4 linked regions of the Homo sapiens genome follow. The protein of the gene in region 2 interacts with the protein of the main gene of each other region in a pairwise test. Each region holds a gene or a part of one and is shown on either strand. Other genes may lie near its edges. The genes, in order: CACNA1A, KHDRBS3, CCDC33 and RBBP6.

What was found.
Region 1: the proteins of KHDRBS3 (region 2) and CACNA1A interact in a two-hybrid assay, tested with the Homo sapiens proteins (one study listed by BioGRID and IntAct).
Region 3: the proteins of KHDRBS3 (region 2) and CCDC33 interact in a two-hybrid assay, tested with the Homo sapiens proteins (2 studies listed by BioGRID and IntAct).
Region 4: the proteins of KHDRBS3 (region 2) and RBBP6 interact in a two-hybrid assay, tested with the Homo sapiens proteins (one study listed by BioGRID and IntAct).

Annotation. Positions count from the first base shown.
Region 1 is NC_000019.10:13,205,904-13,209,479, reverse strand, and holds the end of CACNA1A (voltage-dependent P/Q-type calcium channel subunit alpha-1A), read left to right. Parts: coding exon 1-168; intron 169-470; coding exon 471-724; intron 725-1,426; coding exon 1,427-2,167; 3' UTR 2,168-3,038; downstream 3,039-3,576.
Region 2 is NC_000008.11:135,579,423-135,586,460, forward strand, and holds part of KHDRBS3 (KH domain-containing, RNA-binding, signal transduction-associated protein 3), read left to right. Parts: intron 1-2,455; coding exon 2,456-2,651; intron 2,652-7,038. UniProt on the Homo sapiens protein: RNA-binding protein that plays a role in the regulation of alternative splicing and influences mRNA splice site selection and exon inclusion. Binds preferentially to the 5'-[AU]UAAA-3' motif in vitro.
Region 3 is NC_000015.10:74,330,288-74,336,641, forward strand, and holds the end of CCDC33 (coiled-coil domain-containing protein 33), read left to right. Parts: coding exon 1-67; intron 68-375; coding exon 376-464; intron 465-693; coding exon 694-825; intron 826-915; coding exon 916-1,009; intron 1,010-2,391; coding exon 2,392-2,558; intron 2,559-2,933; coding exon of another isoform or gene 2,934-3,035; intron 3,036-3,593; coding exon 3,594-3,680; intron 3,681-4,687; coding exon 4,688-4,801; coding exon of another isoform or gene 4,802-4,885; exon of another isoform or gene 4,886-5,209; coding exon of another isoform or gene 5,210-5,224; exon of another isoform or gene 5,225-5,637; coding exon 5,638-5,766; 3' UTR 5,767-5,854; downstream 5,855-6,354.
Region 4 is NC_000016.10:24,563,548-24,570,585, forward strand, and holds part of RBBP6 (E3 ubiquitin-protein ligase RBBP6), read left to right. Parts: intron 1-62; coding exon 63-117; intron 118-1,249; coding exon 1,250-1,318; intron 1,319-3,595; coding exon 3,596-3,958; intron 3,959-4,244; coding exon 4,245-4,346; intron 4,347-5,197; coding exon 5,198-6,952; intron 6,953-7,038. UniProt on the Homo sapiens protein: E3 ubiquitin-protein ligase which promotes ubiquitination of YBX1, leading to its degradation by the proteasome.

The sequences.
Region 1 (3,576 bases), on a different chromosome or scaffold from region 2:
CCATGAAGCGTTCAGCCTCCGTGCTGGGCCCCAAGGCCCGACGCCTGGACGATTACTCGCTGGAGCGGGTCCCGCCCGAGGAGAACCAGCGGCACCACCAGCGGCGCCGCGACCGCAGCCACCGCGCCTCTGAGCGCTCCCTGGGCCGCTACACCGATGTGGACACAGGTGGGCAGCCCTGTGGTGCTCAGGGACAAGCAGAACAGAGGAGAGGAGAGGGGAGGAGAAGGCAGGGCGGAGGAGACACTAAGGAAGAAGAAAGGGAGAGGCCTCCATGGAGAGGGGACAGAGGGGGCCAGGCAGCAGCTGCAGGAACCTGGGTACTACCCCCTCCCCCCAACCCACTGACCTGCCTCGGTTCAGGGGATCTCTAGGGCCCCCACACCTTCCAGGTGGCCTCCTGTGTGTGCATCTGCCCCACCTCTCCCTCACGACCACCTGTGTGTCTGTCTGACCCTCACCCGGCCCAGGCTTGGGGACAGACCTGAGCATGACCACCCAATCCGGGGACCTGCCGTCGAAGGAGCGGGACCAGGAGCGGGGCCGGCCCAAGGATCGGAAGCATCGACAGCACCACCACCACCACCACCACCACCACCATCCCCCGCCCCCCGACAAGGACCGCTATGCCCAGGAACGGCCGGACCACGGCCGGGCACGGGCTCGGGACCAGCGCTGGTCCCGCTCGCCCAGCGAGGGCCGAGAGCACATGGCGCACCGGCAGGTGGGTGCGGCTGCAAGTGACCCCAGGCTGGGCTCGGCCGGGAGGCGGGGAGGAGAGAAGGGGATACCCCATCCAACAGCCACTCTAGGCAAAGGTCCCCGGATCCCGGCTGTGACCACCTCCCATCCTGCCCCCAAGCCACCGGGGTGCCCGGCGGCCGGAGCGGACACGGATCCCCACCACACCAGCTGCCTATGCTGTCCCCCCAGCCCCCTTGCCCACCCGCCGCCCCCTCCCCGCCGCCCGCAGCTGCTTGCTCCTCGGTTGTGGATCATATTTGAGTTCTGGGCCGTGCCGCCCGACCTTTCACTTTCCTTTAACCCGGCTTCTGTTTTTGTTTCAATTATGATTTCTGTCCTCTGGACGCCTGTGAGTAATTTTTGAAACTTCTGCTATTTTTAACCCCGAAACTTACAAAACTCCATTTCTCATTTCTCTTTTCACTTTGTTGTGTTGGTTTTCGACTCCTCCCCTCCCTGTCTCACTCCCCCTCCTCCCCTCCCTCCTCCCTGTGGCTGTTGCTTTTTTCCATTCAATGTCCTGTGTCCCCCCTCTCCTCCTCCTCCTCCTCCTCCCCCTCCCCCTCCTCCCTCTCCTCCCGGCCCCTCTCCCTTCGCTCCCCTCTCTTCCTCCCAATCCCGTGTCTCCTTTGATTTTGTTGTATCTTTTTTTTTGATTTCCTTTGTTTCAATTTTCGTGTAGGGCAGTAGTTCCGTAAGTGGAAGCCCAGCCCCCTCAACATCTGGTACCAGCACTCCGCGGCGGGGCCGCCGCCAGCTCCCCCAGACCCCCTCCACCCCCCGGCCACACGTGTCCTATTCCCCTGTGATCCGTAAGGCCGGCGGCTCGGGGCCCCCGCAGCAGCAGCAGCAGCAGCAGCAGCAGCAGCAGCAGCAGGCGGTGGCCAGGCCGGGCCGGGCGGCCACCAGCGGCCCTCGGAGGTACCCAGGCCCCACGGCCGAGCCTCTGGCCGGAGATCGGCCGCCCACGGGGGGCCACAGCAGCGGCCGCTCGCCCAGGATGGAGAGGCGGGTCCCAGGCCCGGCCCGGAGCGAGTCCCCCAGGGCCTGTCGACACGGCGGGGCCCGGTGGCCGGCATCTGGCCCGCACGTGTCCGAGGGGCCCCCGGGTCCCCGGCACCATGGCTACTACCGGGGCTCCGACTACGACGAGGCCGATGGCCCGGGCAGCGGGGGCGGCGAGGAGGCCATGGCCGGGGCCTACGACGCGCCACCCCCCGTACGACACGCGTCCTCGGGCGCCACCGGGCGCTCGCCCAGGACTCCCCGGGCCTCGGGCCCGGCCTGCGCCTCGCCTTCTCGGCACGGCCGGCGACTCCCCAACGGCTACTACCCGGCGCACGGACTGGCCAGGCCCCGCGGGCCGGGCTCCAGGAAGGGCCTGCACGAACCCTACAGCGAGAGTGACGATGATTGGTGCTAAGCCCGGGCGAGGTGGCGCCCGCCCGGCCCCCCACGCACCCCACGCACACACCCCACCCGAGGAGCCGCGCAGAGGCCGCGGGGGCCCAGCACAGAGGGCCCGGGAGAGGGCCAGCCGGGAGACCCCAGACTCTGGAGAGGCCAGGGCTGGGCCACAAGGGTGTCCCGCAGAGACCCTCGGCCAAAAGAGACCCTCCTGGGCAGCCACGGCGCCCCCCAACCAGCCCCGATCCCCCCACCCACGACAGGGGCTCTCGGGTGGGAGGCAGGGAGCAGACAAACCACACAGCCAAGGGATTTGAATTAACTCAGCCATTTTTGGAGAACTTTGGGGAACATGAAAAAAAAAAAAAAAAAAAAAAAAAAAAACATTTTTAAAAGAAAAAACGGGGAGAAAAAAATAGCTTCTATTGATGAGTTTTATCATCTCAATTGAATCTTTCCTTTCCCTGATGAAGACAGCTGGTGGCCGAGTGCGGCAAAGAAGCCAGAAGGAACCAGAATCCCAGTGCCCTACACCCACCACCAGACACACTCACACCCACACACGTTCTCAGACACACACAAGAGTGCTTGCCGGTTATACCAAACCCTACTATTACTGCCTGCAGAAATCAATTTAAAAAAATAATAATAACAATAAACAATTTTAAAAAGGACAAAAAAATTAATGATTGAGAAAAGAGGCATTTTTTTCTGACATTTGGTCCTGCTTGAAACAACAAAAGAAGAAGAAAAACCCACCATCACCACCGATTCCTTTGCTTCTTTTTTCCTTTTTTCCTACCTTGTTTGAAAACCGTGGGCTTGGGACTGTGAATTATTGCATGACATTCAAAAAGAAAAAAAAAATAAAAAAAAGTTGAATCAAAGGGCTTTTGGATAGGAGTGGTCTTTGTCCCTTGGCTAGGTGCTGCCTGGGTGGGTCTCTCTTGGGGAATCATACAAAGAGGCACTTCTTTGTTAGCTCCTAGAAGCACTGTTTGAAAGCGACAAGGAGGCCGGGCATCATGCACGCCTGTAATCCCAGCACTTTGGGAGGCTAAGGCAGATGGATCACTTGAGGTCAGGAGTTCGAGACCAGCCCGACCAACATGGCAAAACCTCATCTCTACTAAAAATACAAAAAAAATTAGCCATGCGTGGTTGCACAAACTGTAATCCCAGCTACTCCGGAGGCTGAGGCATGAGAATCACCTGAGCCTGAGAGGCGGAGGTTAGCAGTGAGCCAAGATCCCACCACTGCACTCCAGCCTGAGTGACGGAATGAGACTCTTGTCTCAAAATAAAAAAAAAAAAGGCAGGGCGCGGTGGCTCACGCCTATAATCCCAGCACTTTGGGAGGCCGAGGTGGGTGGATCACATGAGGTCAGGAGTTCACAACCAGCCTGGCCAACATAGTGAAACGCC
Region 2 (7,038 bases):
TGCCTCCCAGGTTCAAGTAATTCTCATGCCTCAGCCTGAGTAGCTGGCATTACAGGCGTGTATCACCACGCCTGGCTAATTTTTGTCTTTTTTCAGTAGAGACGGGGTTTCACCATGTTGGCCATGCTGGTTTCGAACTCCTGATCTCAAGTGATCCACCCATGTTGGCCTCACAAAGTTCTGGGATTACAGGTGTGAGCCACCATTCCTGCCCGATGTTCTTTTTCAACTTGAGGAAATTTACTGAAAGTTGTTATGAATGAATGTCGCCATTGGCCGCATGCTTTTTCTGCTCTATTTATATGATCACATGATTTTCCTACTTTGGCCTTGTTGATGTGGTGGGTTACATTGATTTTCTAATATTAAATCAACCTTATGTACCTGGAATAAATCCTACTTGGTTATGGTGTATAATTCTTTTAGCACATTATGGAATGGAGTTTGCTAATAGTTTTGAGGATTTTTGTACCTGTGTTCATGAGAGATGCTGATTTCTAGTTCTTCACTTTAGACTGTCTTTATCCACATTGGTTATGAGGAGGCCTTGTTCTTGTTCCCCCTCAGACCACATCTCATTCTAAGGAGGTCACAGAGCATTTGGGCTGGTCACAAATCTGGCACCTGTTAATGCTTTTCCTCCCCATCTCTGGCCAGTTGTAGCCTCTGAGGGTGATTTAGTATTTTGAGAGATACTTCCTTTGTCAGGTCCCAACCAGTGCTCAAGAATAGGCTGGGGACAGTCACCTCTGGCCTCCCTGGCTGGCCCAGACTGGTCCCAGCCTCTGATGAGTAATGTAGAAATACTTTGAACGAGGCACTTCCAATGACCAGCCCCACAGATTGGGTTAGGAAGTGTTCCCTCTGCTTTTATTTTTTGGACAAGATTATAGAGAACTGGTATCATTTCATTCTTTAATATTTGACAAAATTCATTGAAACCATATGGAGTTGATGCTTTCTTTTTTGGAAGATCATTAACTATTGATTAAATTTATTTAATAGACATAAGCCCATTCAGATTATTTAATTCTCTTTGTGTTGGTCATTATGAATCAGAATCAGTCACATTCATGTAAGTTAAAAAATGTGTGAGCTTGGAGTTGTTCATAGTATTTCTTCATTATTCTTAAATGTCCTTGAGGTCAAAAATAATGAAATCCTCTTCCTCTCTCTCTCTCTCTTTTTTTTTTTTTTTTTTAATTTTTCTGAGACAGAGTCACTCTGTCACCCAGGCTGGAGTGCAGTGGTGTGATCCTGGCTCACTGCAACCTCAGCCTCTTGGGTTCAAGTGATTGTTGTTGCTCAGCCTCCCAAGTAGCTGGGACTATAGGCACACACCACCGTGCCCAGCTAATTTTTGTATTTTTAGTAGAGATGGAGTTTTGCCATGTTGACCAGGCTGGTCTTGAACTCTTGGCCTCAGGTGATCCACCTGCCTTGGCCTCCCAAAGTGCTGGGATTACAGGCCTGAGCCGTCACACCCGGCCAAAACCCTCTTCATTTCTGATATTGGTGTTTGGGCTTTTTTTTTCTCTTTAGCCTGTCTAGAGGTTTATCAATTTCATCAGTCTTTTCAAAGTCCAGCTTTGGGTTTTGATAATTTGCTATTTTTGGAAAATGAGTCTTTAGCTGCGTATTTGCTATCCCAGACACACTGAAGAAGGAGGAAGCTGATCTGTAGGCAGCCAGCCTGCCAGCTGCAGTTCTTCCTGGAGGGCCTTATCCAGATGAGGTCATCATGCTGTGTCTGTATTCTCTGGGGTAGCCACACTTTTCTGTCCTTATGTTTTCTCAGGTTTTTGCTTCTGTGGAGCCATTCTTGATAGAGCCATCTCCTTCCTTCCTGACTTGAAGTCTTATGATTTACATTAGAAATACATGAATATGTTGAATTCTACCTCAGAAAATGCCTGTGTTTACTTAACCTAAGAATGTTGTTTTATTACCATGTGGTTGACACATTATTCAGGAAAGTATATTTTATTGTCTCTCTGGTGGAATTTTGGCATATATTTTGGCCTCTGGCTTTGCTCACAGCTGTTCTGAGACAGTTTTAAAATCTCTCTGAGCCTCAGTTTCCTTGTCCTGAGATAAGCAAGAAAAGGCACACCTCATAGTGTGGGAGTGAAGTTTGGGTGTAATCCTGGCATGGCATTATATAGAAGTCTTGGGTGCATGTGGCTTCTCCAAATATCACAGTTTCCTACTCTGTGTATTGACCAGAGATTAACTCCAGACTTCTATATTGTTGCTAGACGAACTGCCTAAATGCCTTAATTTCCTTTTGACAGACACCTGTTTCATGTTTGCTTTAGTTCTTTGCTTGTGACTTCCTTCTTCCTTTTTACAAAAATATAGAACATTGATTTTGTTTCTGAGGTATAAATATATGTGAATAACAGAATGTTAGAGACTATGATAGATACTGCTAATTTGACTCTCTTGGTTACAGGGGAAGGGGAGGAGTTACAGCCCGGCCAGTTGGAGTTGTAGTACCACGAGGGACGCCAACTCCCAGAGGAGTCCTGTCCACCCGAGGGCCAGTGAGTCGGGGAAGAGGACTTCTCACTCCCAGAGCAAGAGGAGTCCCCCCAACTGGGTACAGACCTCCACCGCCACCCCCGACACAAGAGACTTATGGAGAATATGTAAGTGAAGGTGTCAGACAACAGCCTTGTTCATCAGATTGACTTAATCCAGACTTAGCACTGGATATTGTACCCGCGTACGCTTCCTCACCTTGTTTTGGTTCTTGAGTATTCTACTTTGTTTCAGCAAATATTTATTGAGTGCTAAAGAAGTACTTAATACTAGAGGTATAAAAATGGCCTGATCTTTTTCATCAAATAGTTTAAATCTAAGGTATGGAAGAGGAGTTTGGGTGGTGGGGAGGTGTAAGACTAAGGTTCAGGAGACATATTTTCAAGCCCTTACAGGAATTTAATGTAACATTCTTGCATATTTCACTCCTGAATACTTCAGTCATTTAAAAAATAATTGCCTGCGTATACCAAGATGGTTTCCGCCTTAACTGTTTCCTTTTAAGCTACTCTGCTGAGTATGGATTCTTAGTGGAAATTCTTTTCAGTAAAGAAAACAAAAGTTCTCTATTTTCAATTAGTGCAAATCAGTTTTTCATTTATCATTCAGCGATTCTTTGATATAATTCATAGACTGACTTAACGTAAGAGAGAATAATAACCGTGAAAGTTGAGGGGGAAGGGAATTCTTTGATGTCCTCATTTACCATAAATGAAGAAAATAAGAAGCAATGGATAGGTGATTCATATTAATAATTGAAATTGTTAAAGTAAGTGTATGTGAACCATTGTCAATGAAAGGGAAGCAGTAACAATGATAAAATGCAAGTATCAGTAGGTTTTCATTGTTTTACTTTAGGAGAGATCTCTTGCTAGGTGCTCTGTGCCTCTTTGCATAGTTTCTAGAAGGTTGCAATAATCCCCTGGGCCTCAGACAACCTCTTCAACCTCATCTGTGTGGCCACTGGTAAGATCAAAGTCTTTGTCTTGGACATATTTAAGTTTTTGTAATTCCCTGAACATTCTGTGTCATCTTAGTCTTCCAGACCTTTGCTTATACTGCCTCCTCAGCCTAGAATGGTGTTCTTATGTTTCATTTGACTGTCTCCTTGTGTCCTTCTACACGTAGGTCAATCATTGCTAGGGAAATTTAGAGGTGGTAATAGCTAACCTGTTGAGCATTACTACAGTTCTTACATTTCTCTCTCCCACCTAGCTTGTGAACCTCTGGAAGGGCAGGAATGGATAGCTTTTATCTCTTTATACTTGGGAGAGAGTGCATACTGGGAGCCCACTGAATTATATTTTAACAAATCCCGTAATAGTTTTACAAGTTTGTTATTCAGCTGAGGAAGGATGTGTTTCCTCTCTTTGAATTCGTTACAGTTAAATGTGTTCCTACTTCCTAATAATCTTACCAGATGACAATAATAATTATGCCTCAGCTCTTCCATAAATGCTGAGTCTCCTGAAAGTATCAGGGACTCTAAAGGAGAGTAAATCTTAAATTCCTTTTAGGTAGGCCCAGTGTCTGTTCATTTCCACTTTGGCTTACATTGATTTCTTAGGTTTAGATTTAATACAGATGTGGTTGGATGATGTAGTAGAAATTGCCAGGCAGGTTGTGTGGGAAACCTGGATCCTATACCCCATTTTACCATAAATTTTAATATCGGGCAAGATATTTAACTTTTTGGGCTTCATAATCCACTTATTTCAGAAAGAACTATTGCCTTCATTACATGTATTCATCTTTCCATTCAATAAAGATTGGATTTCTACCGTGTGAGCCAGACACACATGTTGTCTGTCTCAGCATGTATACTCTAATTATTAGAGTCTGGAAATAAATTATATAGATTAATAAAACTGAAAAATTCTTGAAAGGTTAAAGTCCAAAGGAGGAAAAGCAAAAGCAAGAGACATTCAAGACATTTGGGTTTGCTGCTTGTACTTTTGATTGTTTTATTTATTTTTTATTTTTGTAAATGATAGGAAAGGCATTAAAACAATTGAATTGAGAAGTATTCTGTAGGATTAATTTACTCCCTTTTCCATCTGCTACCAAAGATAATGGGATAATGGCCCTGTAGAAGATTACCTGCGTTTTTCCAGAACCAGACAAAGGTTTAAGAGCTCTAAAGGAAAAAGTCAACCTTCATTGTTTGATTCCCACACTCACTCATGCCTGGCACTCTTCCAGGCACTGACTGTTACTGCAGCTGTGATTTCAACACAGAGCCAGTGCTCTTTCTGTCACATGGTAGCGTTGCCTTCAAATAACTGACGGTCATATCCGCCAGTGTTGTAATTTGGCTGGAATGCAGTATTTGCAATTTTATCAGCTTCATACAATTACAAGTCTTGCATACATAAAACAGCTGTGTGCTTTCCAGGTGTGCTTTGGGTGGTATAGTGGGACACCAAAGGAAAAGAAATACCATCATGAGTGCACCTCCTTCCCCGAGTTGAATTATCATCATGAAGGGTTCAGATTACAAACGTTATAGCTTTCCCACTTAATTTAGCATCTATTATTCCTGGCAGTGCCTTTTAAGATTACTAGTCAAGAGAAAAGATTTTCCTCATTTAGCTTAGCATTTTGTGAGCTGCCTTGGCACAGTTATAGTAAAAGCTTCAGTGGCTTTTTCAGTATAGTAAAAGCTTCACTGTATATAACAAACTTTGCTGGTACTTGGTATAAGGAGTAGATAAAGCCCTTCAGCTTGCTTACAGTGGCTTGCCATCAGTAGCACTGCCTTGCAGATACCCGTTTGACCTCATCTTCCTCCACTGACCCAGTTTTCTACTTCCAACTTTTCTAATACAGCTTGCAACCTCTGGCATAACTTCAGACCTTGGCCATTGGTCTCAACTGTTTGAAAACCTAAAGATTACTCACCCATCACGCTTAGTTTTGCAGCATGGTAGGGGGAATGGGAAGTAAATTCTTCTTAAAAAATTTTTTTATGTTGGGCTCGGCACGATGCTCACGCTTGTAATCCTAGCATTTTCAGAGGCCAAGGTGGGCACATCACTTGAGGTCAGGAGTTCAAGACCAGCCTGGCCAACATGGTGAAACCTCATCTCTACCAAAAAAAAAAAATACAAAAATTAGCCGGGTGTAGTGGTGCGCACCTGTAAACCCACCTACTTAGGAGGCTGAGGTGGGAGAATTGCTTGAACCCGGCAGGTGGAGGTTGCAGTGAGCTGTGATCGCCCCACTGCACCCCAGCCTGGGTGACAGAGCGAGACTCCGTCTCAAAAAAAAAAAAAAAAAAAGAAAAATCGTTTCTTTGTTTCTTGGATTTTAGATAGGGTGGGTGTATTATAAGATACCCAACTTAGAAAACCAAGGAGCTTGTAACACAAATAAATGGTTATTCATTCATGCATCAAATGGGAAAGTTGGCCATCTTTGAATATACTAAAATTATTACATGGAACTAGAACATCTTAAATTAGATTCTAAATTCCATGAGGGTAGGCACTCTCCCCCTGCCTCCCCTTCCTCCCACCCACCACACTTCACCTTTTTATTCCCAATAACTAGTATATAATGTCTGGCACATAGTAGGTCTTTAGTAAATATTTACTGAATGAATGAATGAATGGTCACAAGATGGTTTTTAAAAATTGTCTCCTGCAGAGAACCCACCACAGATGCCTTCTGTGTGATTTTTCAGTTTTATTCACATAGCAATTTTTATGTAACATAGTATTTAGTATATAGCTATGTAGAACAATCATAATATGTCCAGTTTTCAAAAGATTATTAACTTCTAAGGAAAAATTCTTTATCTCTAGGTTAATCTCTGGCTACTAGCTCAGTTTTTGGCACATTGTAAGCACTTAGTAAATGTTCGTTGGACTGAACCAACCCTATACAGAGACTTGATAACATTGTTCAGATGAAGATTACCATTGATTTTTTCTAAGTTCCTGGTAAAAGCATGTGATGGGAAGAAATATGATAGTATTTGAGAAAATAACTTTCCTAAGTTACTGTTGTCTTCTAGCACTGGACGGGTAGTCACAGGTTACAAATGAATAAGATTAATTTTGTTAGCTCCTGAAGGAAACAGAAAAACCTACTGTAAATCTCATCTCAGTATAAAAAGGGGCTTTAAAGAAGGATGTAATATTTGATGAGAAACTGCTCTCCACAAGGCACTTTGATATATGTCACGTTTTCCTTATAACCACCTACTATGATCTCTACTGTACAAATGAGAATTTAAGGTCAGGGAAGTTAAGTGCCTTGCCCAAAGTCACAGGACTGGTAAAGAAGGAGCAGATTCAGGATTCAAAGTTCAAGGCCTATGTTCTGTCTTGAAAAACCAGTGCTTTAAAAAACAAAACCAAAAAAAAAAACAGTGTTCCACTAGCCGAGGTTATAAATAAAATCTCTTCATCTTTGGAGAAAGTGTAACAGATGCTGCATGTTCCCTTCATCAGAAATGCCATAAAAGGGATTATAGGACACTGAATTAAA
Region 3 (6,354 bases), on a different chromosome or scaffold from region 2:
AGGAGCCGCCTGGCCCAGCAGGAGGAGGAAGAGGGGCAGGGCAAAGCCAGTGAGGCCCAGAACACGGGTGAGGATGTGCAGGCCACCAAGGGCACCCGGGCTTCTGCCTGGGCCCAGGCTCCAGGTTGTGCAATAGGGTGGCTGGGAGCTTCTCCCAGATGTGCATGCTGCTGGACTCTGGCAAATAGGAGCCCCTCGCCCACAGACACTCACACAGTCCCTGCCCAGCTGGGTCCTCTCAGGGATGGGAAACAGAGAATCCAGTCCCGTCCCAAGCCCTCGGGCCAAGGGATATCTGCCTTCCTGCTACTGACCATGCTGATTTGAGCTGGGAGAGGCTTCCTCCCTGAGCCAGCTCCCCAACCCACCTAACAGTGTCCATGAAGCAGAAACTGCTGCTGAGTGAGCTGGATATGAAGAAACTGAGGGACAGGGTGCAGCATTTGCAGAATGAGCTGATTCGAGTGAGCTGGGGCTTGTGGGGGCAGAGGGGAGGGAGCTATGGTGGGGGAGCATCGGGGTGAGAAGAGTCTGGGAGGAGAAGGGAGAACAGGCACAGAGGGAATGGAAGCACGGAAGAAAGGGGGACCAGCCTGGTGGAGGATTCAGCAGAGGGGCCGAGGTGGACCCTCAGGGCCAAGGTGGACTCCCAGGCACCCATTCTCTCCCCTTCTCTCCTCCCCCATCTCACAGAAGAATGATCGAGAGAAGGAGCTGCTCCTTCTGTATCAGGCCCAGCAGCCACAGGCCGCTCTGCTGAAGCAGTACCAGGGCAAGCTGCAGAAGATGAAGGCGCTGGAGGAGACTGTGCGGCACCAAGAGAAGGCAGGTGGCAGAGGGGCTGCCCCCGAGGCCAACTGATGATGGCAGAGTAGGGAGCCCCTGGGCCAGCCCAGCCTCTGCTCTGCTCTCCAGGTGATCGAGAAGATGGAGCGGGTGCTGGAGGACAGGCTGCAGGACAGGAGCAAGCCCCCTCCTCTGAACAGGCAGCAGGGAAAGCCCTACACGGGTGGGTCCACACCCTGATGTGATCAGCTCCCCAGCTTCTGCTCCACCCCTGGAGGCCCTGCCTTCCTGGAGCCTCTCAGCTTCAGGAGAACCTGCGAAGAGGTCCCCTGCACTCAGTTATGTCTGTGGGCCTGGGAGACCCAGGATTGCCCTGCTCCCCTCCTCATTCAGGCGCCCCATCCAGAGATCCCCTGAGCTCCCTCCTTCCCTGGAAGCCCCTCAGAACACAATTGGGATGCAGTGTGAGCCAGGCTAGAAAGAGGGTGGACCTCCAGAGGAGGGCCCTGCAGACTAGCACAGCAGAGAGGGCCTTCCCCTGAAGAAGGGCCACCTGGGGCAACACTTCCCAGCTCCTAGCCCCAGGATCCGTCGAATTATTTCCCCATACCGCCAAAGATTCTGCCTCTGCAAAGCAAACAAACAAAAATACTTTGATTAAATCAATGATCTGGGGCCAGGCGCAATGGTTCATGCCTGTAATCCCAGCACTTTGGGAGGCCGAGGAGGGCAGATCACTTGAGGTCAGGAGTTCAAGACCAGCCTGGCCAACATGGTGAAACCCCATCTCTACTAAAAATACAAAAATTAGCTGGGCATGGTGGCGGGCACCTATAATCCCAGCTACTTGGGAGGCTGAGGCAGGAGAATCACTTGAGCCCAGGAGGCAGAGGTTGCTGTGAGCCAAGATTGTGCCACTGTACTCCGGCCTGGGTGACAGAGGGAGACTCCGCCTCAAAATAAATAAATAAATAAATGATTTGGAGGTTTTCTTCCCCATCGATATTAACCAAAAGCCACCTAAAACTGCCAATCAGCCTCTGATAAGCAGAAAGGACCAGGTAACACCATATCAGGCCAGCCCAAAGCAAGGGATTTCCCTGAGCCTGCCTGTGCAACCTCACCCAGGGCCCCTGTGTGCCCAGCCCTGTGCTTAGCCTTCACCGCTGAGGGTCTCAGGGGCAGGAGGGTGTTTCTAGGAGCCTTTAGAATGCAATGAAAGCTGGGCTGGCCTTTCAGGAAGCCTGAGGTCATCCAGGAGTCTGGATGAGACTGAGAAGGCAACCTAGGGAGGGGAAACAGCCAGATCAAAGGCCCAGGGAGTGAGAAGAATTCCAGGATCAGAGAAGGGAGGAAGAGAGAGAGGTGAGGAGCTGAAATACACTGAAGACAAATGAGGAGTTAGAGAGAACGTTGAGGTCAGGTTCTAAAGAGCCTAGAAGGACAGCCTGTGTGCACCTGATCCCACTGGTGGTAGGGAGCCATTGAAGGCTTGGGAGTAGAGGGGAGGGGTGGCAGATTGAAGCAAAATGCTGGAGCAGATCAGGACAGGGACATGGGAAGCAGGAGAGCCCATCTCACCAACATCTGTGGCCGTGTCTCTAGGCTTCCCTATGCTCTCAGCCTCTGGCCTTCCCTTGGGTTCTATGGGAGAGAACCTGCCGGTTGAACTTTACTCGGTGCTGCTGGCAGAAAACGCGAAGCTGCGGACGGAGCTGGATAAGAACCGCCACCAGCAGGCCCCCATCATTCTGCAGCAACAGGCCCTGCCGGTAAGAGGCCCTTGACCTGGGCCTGCCTATGCCGGTCACTGGGTGCCCAGAAATCACCCATGGTACAACCCAAGTTGAAGATCAAGACCAGGAGCTAAGCTTCCCAGGGTCTCCAGTCTGCCTGGGGGCTCCTGGAATCAGCTCTCAGGCCTTGGTCTTTTTCTCCTGCGGAATGTGTGTCCCCGAACACTTCACCTTTAACCTCATCTAGCATCCCAGGAGAAAGCAAGCCCCTTGTTGACCCTTGGTCCCTGAACCCTGACCCCTTTTTCACCTGGCTGGCCTCCACCTGGACCCTACACAGGCCTCTCAAAACTCCCTTCTGGAGCATTCCCTGGTCTTGGTGCAGCCTTGGAGAGCCCTTTTCCATCCCAGGTGGACCCCGGGGAGTTGGGAGCAGGAGGAGACTTGACAGAGAGGCTACAAGAGACGCATGGCCCAGGCCACTCAGAGTGCACAGAGACCCTGCCCGCACAGGTGGGTGGCCCAGGGCCCAGAAATGCCCAGGCCCTGCTCCACCTCTGAAGATGCTTCAGGGGCCCCTTGCTTTACATAAACCCCAAAGCAGAACATTTGGAATCACAGAATATTGGGCAGGGCAGGGGCACAGGAGAGTTTTCTCTCCATCCCAGGACTCGCCGGAGGTGAGTTCTGTTGAAAGCACACCTGACTCATGGACATCCAGGTAAAGTGTGAGGGATGAGGTCAACTGCCTCACAGGTTCTTCACTTCACTCAAAGACTCCCAGTGCGTTAATTATAGGGGGCTCCCTAATGCATTTTACATTAAAAAAAATGTTGTGTCAAAACTTCGTATTCTCAAAATCTGTGTGGGAAACAGCTGTGAAAAAAGCACATGCCAGACCCTGTTCTGAACTTCCAGAAGAGGGTTCGGCCCAGGTCTGACGCTCTGCCTCGGGAGCTCAGTCTGAACTCAGGCCTGACTGGTTTCTTCCTCAATACCTTATGGTTTCCCAAGCTCACACTGCCACAGCCTCCAGCTGGGGCCAAATGTGAGTTTGTGCTTTGCCCACAGGATCTCCTCTCTGGTACTTCAGACAAGTTCAACCTCCTGGCCAAGCTGGAACACGCTCAGAGCCGGATCCTGTCCCTGGAAAGCCAGGTGGGTGAGATGCAGGAGTTGATGAGGCTGGATCAGGCTCACCACACAGCCTATAACCAGGGCTCAGTGTGTGAGCAGAGTCTAGGCTCAATCTATGACCAGGATCAAGGCTTAGTGTGTGGCCAGGGTCGGGGTTCAGTGTGCAACCAGGGTCAGGGCTCAGTGTACAACCAGGGTTAGGGTTCAGTGTGTAACCAGGGTCAGGGTTCAGTGTACAACCAGGGTTAGAGTTCAGTGTGTTACCAGGGTTAGGGTTCAATGTGCAACCAGGGTCAGGGTTCAGTGTACAACCAGGGTTAGGGTTCAGTGTGTGACCAGGGTCAGGGTTCAGTGTACAATCAGGGTCAGGGCTCAGTGTACAACCAGGGTTAGGGTTCAGTGTGTGACCAGGGTCAGGGTTCAGTGTACATCCAGGGTCAGGGTTCAGTGTGTGACCAGGGTTAGGGTTCAGTGTGTGACCAGGGTCAGGGTTCAGTGTACAACCAGGGTCAGGGTTCAGTGTGCGACCAGGGTTAGGGTTCAGTATACAACCAGGGTCAGGGTTCAGTGTGCAGCCAGGGTTAGGATTCAGTGTGTGACCAGAGTCAGCGTTCAGTGTGCAACCAGGGTCAGGGTTCCGTGTACAACGAGGTTAGGGTTCTGTGTATGACCAGGGTTAGGGTTCTGTGTATGACCAGGGTTAGGGTTCAGTGTATATCCAGGGTCAGGGTTCATTGTGTGACCAGGGTCAGGCTCTGTCTATGACCAGAATCAGGGATCAGTGTGGACTCAGGATCAGAGCTCAGTATGTTGTTGAAATGTCCATCTGTGTCTTGGTCAGGCTGCCTGACTGTTTGGCCCCCTCACCCTCACCCCGCCACCCCTGAGGTCTCGGGAAGGTGTCAAGCCCACATGGCCCAGAGCTTTGCTTTCTGCCTGGACAGCAGGCTCAGGCCCTGGTTGTCCTGGCCATCAGGGATTAGCCCTGCTGCCCATGGTCCTCCAATTGTCCCTCTCTGTGTCTGCAGTTAGAGGACTCAGCTCGACGCTGGGGACGAGAGAAGCAGGATCTGGCCACACGGCTGCAGGAGCAAGAAAAAGGTTTCAGGCACCCCTCGAACTCCATCATCATAGAACAGCCTGTGAGTGACCCCCCTGGAGTAGCTCCCAGGGGTTCAGGTGGTGGAGCAGGAAGCCACCGCACCCCCAAAGTCACTGGGCCCTGAGAAAAGCCATTGTGGAGCCAACTCCAGGGCTGGGGGTCAGGAGTCCTAGGCTCCCATTCCTGCTCCATTACCAACCGAAGGCTCGGTCTTAATTCCCCCACCTGTCTAAGGGGAACAGAAAACCCCTGCCAAAACTACCCTTTCCCCCATGGGGTGCTGTGAAACTCAAGGAGATGACTGTGGATGAGGGGTCCATGCAGGCATCTCCAGGATGCCCTGACACTGTGCTTTAGGACTGGCTGCGCTCATGGGCAGAGTAGCTTGTGGCCCTACCCCCCTGAATCCATAGAGCCTAAGATTCTCAAATTAGCACACCCTTCTCAGATGGCCACGATGTAGGCTCCACTTTGCCAACTTCCCGAGAACAAACAGGCCTGCTCACAACTGCCCCTCAAGTTCAACCCCGGGACCGCCCAGCCCCGCAAAGCAAAGACCCTGACTTCTCCTGCTCTTGAGCCAGCTGTGCTTTGCCCGTGGCCAGAAGCTCAGCAGCGGCTCCTGGGAAAGGCCTGGAAAGGATGAGGGAACAGGCAAGGAACAAAGGCAACCTTTGCACACTCACCTGAGCCCTGGGGACCCTTGGAGAAATTAGGTGTCACCTGCTGTGGCAAAATGGGTTTAGAAATCTTTGCCAGGTCATGGCCCACTGGATTCTGGATACTCTGAGGCCTGGTTTGTCAGGCAATATGCCCTTGAGCAGGTCACCCCCTGGGAATGGGGGGTACTCACGCACCCCGCTTTGCACACCACAGAGTGCCCTCACCCACTCCATGGACCTCAAGCAGCCCTCAGAGCTGGAGCCCCTGCTGCCCAGCTCAGACTCTAAGCTCAACAAGCCCTTGAGCCCCCAGAAGGAGACCGCTAACTCTCAGCAGACCTGAGCCCCAGAGCAGGCCTCCTTCCCTGTGTGCTGGGGAGTCTCATCACCGCCCCCTAAAAATGACGTTATTAAATGTTGTAGCTCTGTGAGCATTTTCCTCTTTCCTGGAGCAGGGCAGCCTGGGGGCCCTGCTTCCTCCTCCTAGACCTCACTCTGGGCCTGGGCCTGGGTCTTCTGCTGCAGCCTTACAGCCTCCCGCCTGCCCCAGGAGCCAGCATCTTTGGAAAGCCAAGGGCCACAGTGGACCCAGGAGGGTGGAGAGAAGAGGCCTTCCAAAGCAGGGGCCAGGGAGACGGGCCCCTTCCAGACCCGGAGAAGAAGCAAGGCCACCAGAGACCAGCTCTGTTGGGAAATACGAGGGAGGCTTGTCCTTTTCATCTGCCCCAAAACATCTATCATGTCTGATATTCCTTCTTTCAAGTTTGGTTTGTCTGTCTCTTGGAAAGGGAAAGACTTGGAGGCTTGAAGCCTTCCTGTGGCAGTCACGTATCATTGTGAAATACTCCATTAAGCCACTAGGCTGAGCTGGCAATGATGTGTCCAAATGTAGCCGGGGCAGGAGAGCAGATTGGGCCAGGGGAAAGGAGGC
Region 4 (7,038 bases), on a different chromosome or scaffold from region 2:
ATTTTAGCTTGATTTAATGTGCAATTTTGTATTTACCTACTGCTTTTATTTTTTGTTTCTAGGTCCAGTAAGAATAAATACTGCTCGTCCAGGTGGTGGTCGACCAGGCTGGGAACAGTGAGTAGATGTTTACAATAATCTTCAGATGATTGCCTGCAAACTAGATAATGGAAGGTCCAAACTAGGCAAACTAGATAATGGAAGGTCCAAACTAGGCAGCGGGTCGCTGCTCTTTATTGTAAACTTTCATGTGCCAGATTAACATTTTTTATGTAAAATGTCAAAATTCAAGCTTATATGAGGGTTTTTTTTAAATGAGCAAATCTTTTCTAAAATACAAAATTTTAAAAGTTTTTTTCTACTTTCATATCCAACAAATGGGGATCTTGACAGGACTTCAGTTTAATGAATAGATAAGAATTACTTGAAAAGTTATTTTAAATATGGTGGCAGTTATTTTCCTAGTAGGTTTAACTTTTTCTACCCTTAATTTGGATGATCAAAGTTTGATTTGAGTACATAAATACATAATAAGATTAACGTCTACCAAACAAAAATTTTTTGTCTGAAATCGAGTTGTTCTTGCCACCCTAAAATACAAAGAACTTTGATTTTCTCTGTGGGATATTTTATGGCATTAAAAATCAGCAGACTTACTTAATGTATTTTTAGTTATATAATTATTTCTGTTTATATAATCCGATTGAAAATTGATATATTCTTAAAAGTATGAGTTACTAGCAGGATGTATCAGTAGAAGGAACATAGGATTTAGAAACAGGTAGACTTGGGTTTGAATCCCATCTCCTTCATTTCCTAGCTGCATGACAGTGGTCTTGTGGTTTTACTCCCTAACATCCATTTCCTCGTTTGGATTTGGAATGACACTACCTACCTTAACATGTAAAATGACTTCATTGTGCCCAGCAGACAAAAGGGCTCTTTTCCTTGTATATAACAATAAGTTCACAGAGTAATTTATAGAGTGCTAATTAAAATATAATATTACATAAAGTAATCTATTTTGAGGTCTAGTTATTGTTATGATACAGTTAATTGGTGGGGGAAAGTTAGTTTTAAGTAAATATAATATTTACTCAGCTCTGTATCCGAAACAAATTTAAGAACTGGGGAGTAGGAAAAAGTTTTCAGAGTAGTTAAAATTGGTGTCTTAACAGCTATGCATGGAAAGGTCATGTATTATACCCATGGAGAAATACTTGAGCCTATTTTTTTTTCTCCCACACAGTTCCAACAAACTTGGCTATCTGGTTTCTCCACCACAACAAATTAGAAGAGGGGAGAGGAGCTGCTACAGGTAGGCATGCTAAAAATCTTGGAAAATAATCATCTTATTTTTTATATATATATCTCACCAAAGAAATTAAAGCACAGCAGTGGCAGGAAGGAAGGGGGTCATTTGTTTGTATTGTGCTTATCCCTCTTAAGTCCTGGGTAGTTGTCCTTAAAGAGGGCTAGAAAAGAATAAATTATATATAGTATCTTAAATGATGGTTTTTAAGACATTTTTAATATTCCTTCCCAGTGATTACTTTCTCCCTGTCAGCAAACAGCAGAGTATTGGCTTGCATTTACCCTCTTGGAAGTAGAAGAAAGTCAGGGGTCAGACAATATCTAAGATACCAGTTTAATTTAAGATTAAAGTTAACAAGCTCAGCTCCCAACTGTGAACAAGAATTGCAACTATTTCTCTTCTAGACCCCACTGTCCCAATCATCTCCCACCGTCTCTTTTCCAAAAGAAGAGACAGGAGATTGTTAGAGGCTCCTGCCCTAGTGGGCGGGTACAAGCAATATTAATCTAAGAAGTAAGAATCTTACTGTCTAGGTCAGGGGTCCCCAACCCTGGGCCACAGACCAGTATCCATCCTTGGCCTGTTAGGAACTGGGCAACACAGCAGGAGGTGAACAGCAGCTGAGCGAGCATTACCACCTGAGCTCCACCTCTTGTCAGATCAGCAGTGGCATTAAGATTCTCATAGGAGCATGAACCCTGTTGTGAACTGCGTGTGCAAAGGATCTGGGTTGCACGCTTCTTAGGAGAATCTAATGCCTGATCATCTAAGGTGGAACAGTTTTTACCCCCCTGCCCCCGTCCATGGAAAAATTGTCTTCCACAAAACAGCTCCCTGGTGCCAAAACGGTTGAGAACTGCTAGTCTAGGTCATAATCACCACCAGGATAAAGGAGCCTCCAAAACTTCATAACAAGAGTTTTGGCCAGGCATAATGGCTCATGCTGGTAATTTTAGAGCTTTGGGAGGCTGATGGGGGAGGATTGCTTGAGGCCTGAAGTTCAAGATTAGCCTGGGCAACATAGCAAGACTCTGTCTCTACCAAAAAAATAAAATAACCAGACATGGTGGCATGCACCTGTGGTCCCAGCTACCTGGGAGGCTGAGGCAGGAGGATCACTTGAGCTTAGGAAGTCAAGGCTGCAGTGAGCTATAACCACATCACTGCACTTTAGCCTAGGGGACAGAGTGAGACCCTGTCTCCAAAAAGAAGGAAATTCGGGATATCTTCTAGTGCTTCATTGCTAAACTTATGAAAGTTTACTATGTCATTACTGGATCACATTTTAAAAGAAGGTAATAGTTATTCATGGCTCACTGAAAAGATGCTTAAAATCTAAACCCCTACTGTTGCTGTTGTGTACCAATTATTTATAATTTAAAGCACCTCTAGTTTAACAGAAGTAACCAGTTCTGTTTGGTGAGGCACAAATTAGAAACTTAGCCAACACTGTTATTTTTACTTAAGCTTTTGAGAGAAAGCGTTGATATTTTCATTGTTAATTATAGAAGTTAAAACTAGAATTTATTCTGCTTTGTATGATCTTTACCCACTTCCTCCCTCAAAAAAGAGGTTACAGGAGTTGGTTTTCCTTCATTTAAACTTTTGGGGCCAGGTGTGGTGGCTCTCACCTGTAACCCCAGCACTTTGTGCAGATCACCTGAGGTCAGGAGTTTGAGAACAGCCTGCCCAACATGGTGAAACCCTGTCTCTCCTAAAAATACAAAAATTAGCTGGGCATGGTGGCACACGTCTCTAGTCCCAGCTACTTGGGAAGCTGAGGCAGGAGAATTCGCTTGAACCCAGGAGGTGGAGGTTGCAGTGAGCCAAGATTACACCACTGTAGTCCAGCCTGGACGACAGAGTGAGACTCTGTCTCAAAAAATAAAAAATAAATGAATAAGTAAGCTTTTGGGGAGAGCTAGGTCATAGCAGCATTAACCTGTCAGTGCCTTCAAAAGACAGTTTAGGAAGTAACAGGTAGTAATTAGTGGAGTGATAATCAGTCTGAACTTCATAAAAGAGAACTTTTAAATACAATATTTCCGTGTAGAGAAGGTCCTATAAACTTGCATCATCTCAGTCGAGACATGGCCTTAAAAATTATGTTGTAGAGTTATTTTTACAAATAAATTGTACTAATGTTGCTACACTAGTTGAATAGTTGGTTCTATTCCACTGTTTTTAAGTTTGAAAATAATTATGGATAGAAGAGATAAGCTTACTTGTCTCAGATGACTTTAGTTTGAAGAAGTAATATCTTGGAATTTATTTTTCCAGAAGTATAAACCGTGGGCGACACCACAGCGAAAGATCACAGAGGACTCAAGGCCCGTCACTACCAGCAACTCCAGTCTTTGTACCTGTTCCACCACCTCCTTTGTATCCGCCTCCTCCCCATACACTTCCTCTCCCTCCGGGTGTTCCTCCTCCACAGTTTTCTCCTCAGTTTCCTCCTGGCCAGCCACCACCCGCTGGGTATAGTGTCCCTCCTCCAGGGTTTCCTCCAGCTCCTGCCAATTTATCAACACCTTGGGTATCATCAGGAGTGCAGACAGCTCATTCAAATACCATCCCAACAACACAAGCACCACCTTTGTCCAGGGAAGAATTCTATAGAGAGCAGCGACGACTAAAAGAAGAGTATGTATTCTAATTTGAAATTATTATACACTTTTTTCATTTTCTGATAATAACATTAAATAGGTGTCTGGAAACGTTTTCCAGTGTTTCCAGTTAGTATGAGAAATTCACCTAAAATTTAAACCAAAGCCATACAAGCAACTTCTCAGGGATTCCTAGTTTATAGTTTTAAAGTGGAAAACTAATGGCAATTTCATTCATTTCATTCATGATCTAATTACATTTGTCTTGTTAGTTTTCTTAAATGGTTTTTGTTAACTTTCACTCTTTAACTTTATTTTACTAGGGAAAAGAAAAAGTCCAAGCTAGATGAGTTTACAAATGATTTTGCTAAGGAATTGATGGAATACAAAAAGATTCAAAAGGAGCGTAGGCGCTCATTTTCCAGGTTAGTGTTTTGCAAGCCTTCACAACAGAATTACAAACGGGACTTTGAATATCCAGGGATTAGCTATGGATATAAAGAACATTGCACTTAGGAATTTTTCTGATTCGGTCTAGGTGTATAGAAGTGAAGATGTAGCTTATTTCCCAATATCTGTTCATTGAAATAATGTCTCAGTGTAAATTTTATTGTGTAGAACTAACAGTTGTGGGGATTAAATTGCCCTTGTCCCTTAAAGTTATTCATAGTATCAAATAATTGGGAAATGTTTTTGGAAGGAAAGAAATAGGGGAATAGCCAAAAAACAGTTCCCAGGACCCTTTTACCATAAGGCTACAGCTTCTTGCTGGAACATTAACCTGCGTAATTATGAAGTAGTAGTAGAATACAGATCGCTTTATTGATAGAAAAAGTGAATTATAAAAATTCCCTGGAAGTTTGTTTAAAAGACTTTATTTTTTAGCCTTACACTTGAAATGTGGTTTCTTTTAAAACTAGGCTGTTGGCCAGTATAGGACAAAAAACAGACTCCTACTTCAATATTCAGATAGGAAGTGAAATTTAAAATTAATTGACATTTTGTTTAATGTTAGTTAGCTCATATAACTCACGGTACATTAATGCACTTCACTCTAATTGTTAAGACTTCACTTTTGTTTTGTAACAAGTGATTGCTCCGATTTGTGTACTTTATTCCATTCCAGTAGAGGTCACTGTGCCTCTTTAATCATCTAAGATGAAATTTGATATAAAGATAGATGAAACCGTGAGGAAAGAATGCTAGAATCTGAGAGTCTGTGTTTTATTTTGTATGTATTTCTCAACTATCAACTATTGTTTTGTTTTGTTTTTAGGTCTAAATCTCCCTATAGTGGTTCTTCGTATTCAAGAAGTTCATATACTTATTCTAAATCAAGATCTGGTTCAACACGTTCACGCTCTTATTCTCGATCATTCAGCCGCTCACATTCTCGTTCCTATTCACGGTCACCTCCATACCCCAGAAGAGGCAGAGGCAAGAGCCGCAATTACCGTTCACGGTCTAGATCTCATGGATATCATCGATCTAGGTCAAGGTCACCCCCTTACAGACGCTATCATTCACGATCAAGATCTCCTCAAGCGTTTAGGGGACAGTCTCCTAATAAACGTAATGTACCTCAAGGGGAAACAGAACGTGAATATTTTAATAGATACAGAGAAGTTCCACCACCATATGACATGAAAGCATATTATGGGAGAAGTGTTGACTTTAGAGACCCATTTGAAAAAGAACGCTACCGAGAATGGGAGAGAAAATATAGAGAGTGGTATGAAAAATATTATAAAGGTTATGCTGCTGGAGCACAGCCTAGACCCTCAGCAAATAGAGAGAACTTTTCTCCAGAGAGATTTTTGCCACTTAACATCAGGAATTCTCCCTTCACAAGAGGCCGCAGAGAAGACTATGTTGGTGGGCAAAGTCATAGAAGTCGAAACATAGGTAGCAACTATCCAGAAAAGCTTTCAGCAAGAGATGGTCACAATCAGAAGGATAATACAAAGTCAAAAGAGAAGGAGAGTGAAAACGCTCCAGGAGATGGTAAAGGAAATAAGCATAAGAAACACAGAAAAAGAAGAAAAGGGGAGGAAAGTGAGGGTTTTCTGAACCCAGAGTTATTAGAGACTTCTAGGAAATCAAGAGAACCTACAGGTGTTGAAGAAAATAAAACAGACTCATTGTTTGTTCTCCCAAGTAGAGATGATGCCACACCTGTTAGAGATGAACCAATGGATGCAGAATCAATCACTTTTAAATCAGTGTCTGAAAAAGACAAGAGAGAAAGGGATAAACCAAAAGCAAAGGGTGATAAAACCAAACGGAAGAATGATGGATCTGCTGTGTCCAAAAAAGAAAATATTGTAAAACCTGCTAAAGGACCCCAAGAAAAAGTAGATGGAGAACGTGAGAGATCTCCTCGATCTGAACCTCCAATTAAAAAAGCCAAAGAGGAGACTCCGAAGACTGACAATACTAAATCATCATCTTCCTCTCAGAAGGATGAAAAAATCACTGGAACCCCCAGAAAAGCTCACTCTAAATCAGCAAAAGAACACCAAGAAACAAAACCAGTCAAAGAGGAAAAAGTGAAGAAGGACTATTCCAAAGATGTCAAATCAGAAAAGCTAACAACTAAGGAAGAAAAGGCCAAGAAGCCTAATGAGAAAAACAAACCACTTGATAATAAGGGAGAAAAAAGAAAAAGAAAAACTGAAGAAAAAGGCGTAGATAAAGATTTTGAGTCTTCTTCAATGAAAATCTCGAAACTAGAAGTGACTGAAATAGTGAAACCATCACCAAAGCGCAAAATGGAACCTGATACTGAAAAAATGGATAGGACCCCTGAAAAGGACAAAATTTCTTTAAGTGCGCCAGCCAAAAAAATCAAACTCAACAGAGAAACTGGGAAGAAAATTGGAAGTACAGAAAATATATCAAACACAAAAGAACCCTCTGAAAAATTGGAGTCAACATCTAGCAAAGTTAAACAAGAAAAAGTCAAAGGAAAGGTCAGACGAAAAGTGACTGGAACTGAAGGATCCAGCTCAACTCTGGTGGATTACACCAGGTAGCTGAGTGTAGGGGGTGGGTGTGGAACTTTGTTGGGAGAAGGATTTTCTTCAGTTTTATCCATGCTTGTGCTTTTTATATTAA